Homo sapiens: one gene and its partner. The protein of the gene in region 1 interacts with the protein of each later gene in a biochemical or structural test. Each region holds a gene or a part of one and is shown on either strand. Other genes may lie near its edges.

Evidence for each region. Proteins that work in one complex are often made in the same cells at the same time.
Region 2: the proteins of CUX1 (region 1) and CDK7 form a complex in vitro, tested with the Homo sapiens proteins (one study listed by BioGRID).

What each region holds. Positions count from the first base shown.
Region 1 is NC_000007.14:102,254,626-102,258,733, forward strand, and holds the end of CUX1 (Homeobox protein cut-like 1), read left to right. Parts: 3' UTR 1-3,608; downstream 3,609-4,108. UniProt on the Homo sapiens protein: May be involved in intra-Golgi retrograde transport.
Region 2 is NC_000005.10:69,241,386-69,244,885, forward strand, and holds part of CDK7 (cyclin-dependent kinase 7), read left to right. Parts: intron 1-3,500. UniProt on the Homo sapiens protein: Serine/threonine kinase involved in cell cycle control and in RNA polymerase II-mediated RNA transcription. Cyclin-dependent kinases (CDKs) are activated by the binding to a cyclin and mediate the progression through the cell cycle.

The DNA of each region.
Region 1 (4,108 bases):
GTGCTTGGGCATTGACCAGCCAAAGCTCACATTTAGAAAGCCCTCAGTGCTTCTGTGGTTTCACCTGGGCATCGACGACATTAGGGAAGCCTTTGTGACCACAAGGGCAGGGCTTGTGCCCTGAGTGGCGAGGTGGTGACCTGAGGCCAGTGTGATGTGGTTGGATCTCAGCGTGTACTGAATGCCAGTCTGGCCGGCACACTCGAACGCTAAGAGAATGGTCCAATTTGATGATCTTATTTCTATTTCGATCAGGTTTTGACTTTTTGTAGATGAAAACTACCAGGGAAAAGGGGAAGCAGGTACCCAATAAAGTTTAGAAAGATCCAGTCTGTGAAACCCTTAGAGATGGGCTGAAAGTTAAGTCCACCAACCCTTGGGCTTAATCAGGACGGAAGAGGAGGGGGTGTGGGGGGCAGAGCGTAAAACAAGCCCCAGCCCTACTCCCGGCCCCCCAGCCCAGTCTTCCCAATCCCAGAGGCCCCGGCGGCCTGTGCTCCTCACCACCCTGGTCAGGGGAATAGAAGGAAATGCAATTTCCGCCTGTCTGCCCGACTTCCAAAAACTGCCTCCTCCTGCCCAGGCCTCTCCCACCACCACCTTCCCTCCAAAGATAACCGTGTCCATGCCATCCGTGGCATCATCTCGAGTTTTCATTTTTGGATGAAGTGACATTTAGCTTTAACAAGACATTTCCAAAGCGCCTAGTCTCCTCCAAAATGCTAACTTTAAAAGTTGGGCATTGTAGGCGAAAAATCCCAAAAAAAAAAAAAGACAAAAAAAAAAGGCTGGCGAGAGAAAGACATTTGGCTATGCATAAATGTGCACTTCCCCCATGCCCCCGTTCTTAAACTCTTAAGATGCCTTTGAGTTGCTTTTCATGAATCCTTTTAGTTTACCCGATAATGTTAAGAAAGCATTAGTCTACGTTACTGTAATTTCTGTAGTGTTTACGCTTTAATTTCTACCACAAAATATGCTATATGCTATGTATCAAGCTTTCTGTAATCAGAAAGAAAAGGTGCCTTATATCCCAATGTCACGGCTACATCCCTATGGAAATTAATCAGAAGCACAGTGTGTACGGAAGCATTGGGACTTCTGCTGGTGAAACAAGAGACCATTCAGCAAGACACATTGAAGTGGCACGGAGCTGCTTTTGTTTTATAATTCTTTTTTCCCCCCTTTTCCTTCTTCTTTTTTATTATTTTATTATTTTTTTTGTACTTTGCTTTAAACGGAAAGCACTTAAATAGATGACTATGTGTAAAAGCTCTGTGCAATTGAAATCATTTTTCTTCATTTTAAAAAAATAACGTATTGCACACCAAATGAACTCAAAGTAAGCTTTAGACCAGGACGATTCAGGTTATGAATGAGTTTGTTCACTGTAGTTCCGTTTGTTCATGAACCGAAGGGAAAACAGGCCTCCCCGACTCCCTCCAGTCTCCCAGCCTGCCTCTTGGTGACCACTGTGCTGGGCGTGCAGGGCCCGCGGGCTCTGGCCGGAGCCGCTGGCCTGACGAGGCAGGATAGGGAGTATCCGTGATTCAGAAGCTGAGACCCTTCCCCAGTGTCTGAGGCCACAGCCATCCCTTCCAGCACTTAATCTTGTCTTGTTGAAATGGACTGACTGCTACTGACCTGCCGGCGTGCGTGAGGGTGATTATAAAAGGATGTTTCCTTGAGAAAAAAAAAATTATTTCTATCCTCTTCTATTTATTATTAGGTTAATCATTTAAGTACTTATCAGGAGTGTATTGTTATTTTGTGTTTTGTTGTCATAAATGCTTTTTGCTGTCACTCTAGTGGTTACTATCCTCTGCCTTCCTCTCCTCCCCTACTCCCCCAGAGAACCAAGGCGTCTGGGGGATTGACTGGGGGGCAGAGGGGGTTTCCCCAGCAAAATCAAACACCTGTCTCCAGAGTAGCCACTCAAAAACTGGTGGTCTCTATGTGTCTAACTTTTTAAATGAGAGTGTTTATGAACAAAAAAATTTACCAACGTGTGAGGGAGTTGCTGAGTTGAAGAATGCTCGCTTGAGGAGCTTCAGAGGAATCTTAGCAAAGCCAAGTTCAGTTCCCCAAAGCCTCCTAGAGCCTCTGGTAAGACTTCTGGGTTCATGAAGTTTCGGCGAGCCGTGGTCAGAGAGGGCGCGGTGGCCTGGCCAAGACTTTACCTCCAAGCGAGAGAGTGATTTCTTGCAAGGCCCGCATGGGTTGATACGTTTTGGTTGGTTTTTTGTTGTTGTTTTTCTTGCGTACAAAGTTGGTCAAAACCATCTTTCAAAGCAACAGTGTTTTGTAGTACCAGGCTGTGGCTTGAGGGCTCACCTAGGAGATCATAGGCAGAGGGCCCCTTTCCCCTATAGGTGGTTCAACGTGGAGGAAGGTTGGGTGTGGAGATTGCTTGCTGTGGCCCCAAGCTCAGCCAGCAGGACACCCAGTTGTTGCCAATCAGGTGTGAAGGTGAGGCGCCCTGCCTTGATCCCATGGGCCCAGCAGAAGGAAACTTACCCCAGGCCAAGGCAAGGGCCCTGCTCACCCCAAGGTAGGCTGGGAAGAGCATCTCTTTCCATATCATCACCTCCCCTTCTCCAAGATTGCCGGGGGCCCTGATTTTGTTCTCTCTTTGAAAGAAACCCTCCACCGAAACAATGGTCCCCATCTCCCCAGAAGCCTTTTTTTTTTTCATTTTTCTCTAATTAGTCTATGCATTTCTCTCTCTCAAACCATCTTCTGCCTCTTCCCTTGAGAAAACGGGCATCTCACGTACCCCCATCTGAGACCTCTTGGAAAAAAAAAATCCCGTGTATTCTGGAGATGTGAGAATTCACCCAAAATTCTTAAAACATTGGAGAATAGCTTGTTATAAAATAAAAGTGGGGGTAAAAAGAAGGTGGTTTTCCCCACATCCCTTTGCATTGAATAAGAGACCTAGTTCTTTGCGTTTGTGCAATAACTCTTTGCTGCTTGCCTTGAGAGCGGGTAGCACCACGCTCCTGTCCAGACTACTAACAGCACAAGACGCACTCACAGGGTGGCGGAATCTTCCGGAAAACTCTCTATAAGCTCAGCTCCCCCCACCCCACCCCCACTCTAGCGTTTTGTCACGTCTTACATTTTAGCAGTATTTTATATTTTCTGTAACGCACCAAGTCTTAGATCTTTCTAGAGCTTGTTTGTTCATCCTCACAATCACAGATTTTTTTCTCCAATCCTCACAGAGACCCAATTGACCAAAAAAGAAAAAAGGAAAAAAAAAAAGTCGTCTTTTTTTTTTTTTTTTGTACAAATCGCTTTGAGATGCCTCTGGTGTGTTGCTGTGTGACATCTCTCTGGTAACATTTTATTTCTTGCTATTTGTTTTTCTACATTAAGAGTCAAAGTTGACCTGGCTGGCGTGGGGGTGGGGGAGGCACCCGTCGGCCCCTTGGTGTTGTCCCTCTGTCTTTGGTTAGCCATACGATGTTTGTTCTCAGCACTGTACAACGGTCCCTATATAATACGGAGAAGCAATATCACTGTATGAGACTCACACCATGTATTATTATTCACTAGCACCCTAGGTGTGATAATTGAAGTAAATATCTTTTATACAAACACAAGAATGTGTGGGTTGTTTTTATTTAAAGTGCTCTGGCCTGAGGACGAGCAGCAAACACTGTCATTCGAGGTCCAAAGGGCACCTCAAGAATCGCCGTTCCCGAGGTCGTCCCCTTTGCACCTGTCCGCAGGTCCTCGGGCGTGTGGCTTCCGGGCACACAGAAAACCGTGTGGTTCTAGGATACATGGGGATCTCGGGCACTGCTCTGTCAATCTGCATCTGGTTCACAGGAAGGGCTTCGCCAGGGCCTGCGTTCCTACTTGCTGTTGTCACCAGCACTGTTTGCCTACCCTTGAACCAAGCCCTTACCCTCCCTGGCGTCCGCTTCCTTTTCTGTAAAATGGAGACACCATCTCCTGTCATATAGGCTTGCTGTGGGGAACCAGGAATGGTGGCCAGTGCTGGTGCGGCACTGGGCTGGTGGTGGCAGCCCCAATCGATGGCACTTGGGCGACCAGGACTACGGCCAGTCTCCTCTGCCGTGTGGCCTGCAGCTGGTCA
Region 2 (3,500 bases), on another chromosome or scaffold:
TCTCGGTTTACTGCAACCTCCGCCTCCTGGGTTCAAGCAATTCTCCTGCCTCAGCCTCCTGAGTAGCTGGGATTACAGGTGCACACTGCATCACCACACCCGGCTAATTTTTGTATTTTTAGTAGAGACGTGGTTTCACCTTGTTGGCCAGGCTGGTCTCGAACTCCTGACCACGTGATCCGCCTGCCTCAGCCTCCCAAAGTGCTGGGATTACAGACATGAGCCAACGGGCCCGGCCCTCATTGTAGTTTTCATTTGCATTTTTCTGATGCTCAGTGATGTTGGCACCTTTTCTTATGCTGTCTGCCATTTGTATGTCTTCTTTTGAGAAATACCTACTCAGATCTTTCGCCCATTTTTAAATTGGATTATTAGATTTTTTTCATATAGAGTTGTTTGAGCTTCTTATATATTCTGGATATTAATCTCTTATCAGATGGATAGTTTGCAAATATTTTCTCTCATTCTGTGGGTTTTCTCTTCACTGTGTTGTTTCCTTTGCTCTGCAGAAGCATCTTAACTTGATGTGATCCCATTTGTCCATTTTTGCATTGGTTGCCTGTGCTTGTGGGGTATTACTCTAGAACTCTACCCAGTCCAATGTTCTGGAGAGGTTTTCCACTGTTTTCTTTTAGTAGTTTCATAGTTTGAAGTCTTCAACTTAAGTCTTTAATCCATTTTGATTTGATTTTTGTATATGATGAGAGATATGGGTCTAGTTTCATTCTTCTGCATATGGATATCCAATTTTCCCAGCACCACTTATTTATTTTGTTTGCAACAAAGAAAGAGTTTAATTGTCACAGGGCCAACCAAGTGAGGAAGACAGTAGATAATTCTCAAATCTGCCTCCCTGAGAATTCGGGGGCTAGGGTTTTTCAAGGATAGTTTGGTAGGCAGTGGGCTAAGGAATGGGGAATGCTGATTGGTTGGGTCTTGGATAAAATTGTAGAGAGTTGAAACTGTCTTCTTGCCCTGACTCAGTTCCTAAGTAGTGGTCACAGAACCAGTTGAGTCAGTTTCTTCATATGGGCTCCTGGTCCAAGTGGCACCAGTTGGTCCATCAAAATGCAAGGTCTGAAAGATACCCCAACCACCAGTTTTACGTTTTACAATAGTGATGTTATCTATAGGAGCAATTGTGGAGGTTGCAAAATTCTTGTTACTTTTGGCTACATAACTCCTAAACAATAATTCTAACCTCGTGTAATTTTACAAAGATGCTTTTAGTCTCTGAGCAAGGAGTGGGTTAATTTTGGGAAAGGACTGTTAATCATCTTTGTTTTAAAGCTAAACTTTAAACTGAATTTCTCCCATAGTTAGCATTGCCAACACTCAGGAATGAGCAAAGAGCTTGTGAGATTAAAAGCAAAGATAGGGCCAGGCGCAGTGGCTCATGTCTGTAATCCCAGCACTTTGGGAGGCGGAGGCAGGCGGATCACCTGAGGTTGGGAGTTTGAGACCAGCCTGACCAACATGGGGAAACCCTGTCTCTACTAAAAATACAAAATTATCCGGGCGTGGTGGTGCATGCCTGTAATTCCAGCTACTCTGCAGGCTGAGGCAGGAGAATTGCTTGAACCCAGGAGGTGGAGGTTGCAGTAAGCTGAGATTGCACCTTTGCACTCCAGCCTGGGCAACAAGAGCAAAAACTGTGTCTCAAAAAAAAAGCAAAGATGGAGTCAGCTATATCACGTTTTACTCACTGTTGTAATTTTTGCAAAGGTGGTTTCAAAAATATGCCTTTTTGGCATGTTGATTGTTGTGAGCTGGTTATCCTGAGAAACTGCAGATACAGGAGTAGTTCTGAAAAGTTGCCCTTTTTTAAGGGAAGTGTACGTTTGTAAAGGAGTATCTCTTTGACAGGGTGTCTCCCTCTCTGCACCAGGAAGAGAAGAAAGACTAGAAAGACTAAATCTCTAGAGACTGTCAATGCAGAAGGCATCAACTTAAGTCTGTACAGCAAACCTAACCTCTGCTTAAGGCACAGCACCATTTATTGAAGAAACTGTCTTTTCCTCATTGTATGTTATTGGCACCATTGTTGAAAATGAGTTTGCTGTAGATGTATGGATTTTTTTCTGGGTTCTCTATTCTGTTCCATTGGTCTGTGTGTCTGTTTTTATGCCAATATCATGCTGTTTTGGTTATTATAGCTTTGTTGTATGAAGTCGGGTAATGTGATTCCTCCCTTTTGTTCTTTTTTCTTAGGATAGCTTTGGCTATTCTGGGTCTTTGTGGTTCTACACAAATTTTAGGATTGTTTTTCCTATTTCCATGACGAATGTCATTGGTATATTGATAGAGATTACATTGAATCTATAGATTGCTTTAGGTTGTATGGACATTTTAACAATATTGATTCTTCCAATCCATGAATATGAATTATCTTTCCATTTTTTTGGTGTGTTGTCTTCAATTTCTTTCACCAATGATAGTTGTTTTTTTTTTTTTTTTTTTTTTTTGAGATGGAGTCTCGCACTGTTGCCTGGGCTGGAGTTCAATGGTGCAATCTCAGCTCACTGCAACCTGTGCCTCCCGGGTTTGCGCCATTCTCCTGCCTCAGCTTCCTGAGTACCTGGGATTACAGGCGCATACCACCACAGCTGGCTAATTTTTTGTATTTTTAGTAGAGACGGGGTTTCACTATGTTGGCCAGACTAGTCTTGAACTCCTGACCTCGTGATCCGCCTGCCTTGGCCTCCCAAAATGCGGGGATTACAGGCGTGAGCCACCATACCCGTTCAGTAGTTTTTATTTTAGAGATCTTTCACTTAATTTGGTTAATTCCTAGATATTTAATTTTATTTGTAGCTGTTGTGAATGGGATTACTTTCTTGATTTCTTTTTCAGATTGTTCACTGTGGGCATATAGCAGGGCTACTGATTTTTGTATGTTGATTTTTGTATCCTGCAACTTTTGTGAATTATCAGTTCTAGTCGTTTTTTGGTGGAGTCTTTAGGTTTTCCCAAATATAAGATCATATTGTCACCAGGTGTGGTGGCTCATGCCTGTAATACCAGCACTTTAGGAGGCCGAGGTGGGCGGATCACCTGACCAACATGGAGAAACCTCGTCTCTACTAAAAGTACAAAAAAAATTAGCCAGGCATGATGGCGCATGCCTGTAATCCCAGCTACTTGGGAGGCTGAGGAGGGAGAATTGCTTGAACCTGGGCGGTGGAGGTTGTGGTGAGCCAAGATCACACCATTGCACTCCAGCCTGGGCAACAAGAGCAAAACTCCGTCTCAAAAAAAAAAAAAAAAAAAAAGATCATATCGTCTACAAACAAGAAGAATTTCACTTCTTTGCTTGCTCTTGCTAGGACTTCCAGTACTATATTGAATAACAGTGGTGAAAGTGGGCATTCTTGGTGTGTTCAAGCTCTTAAAGGAAATCAGTTTTTCCCCATTCTGTATACTGACCATGGGTCTGTAGTATATGGCTTTTATTATGTTGAGATATGTTCTTCTATACCCAGTTTTTTAAGAGTTTTTAT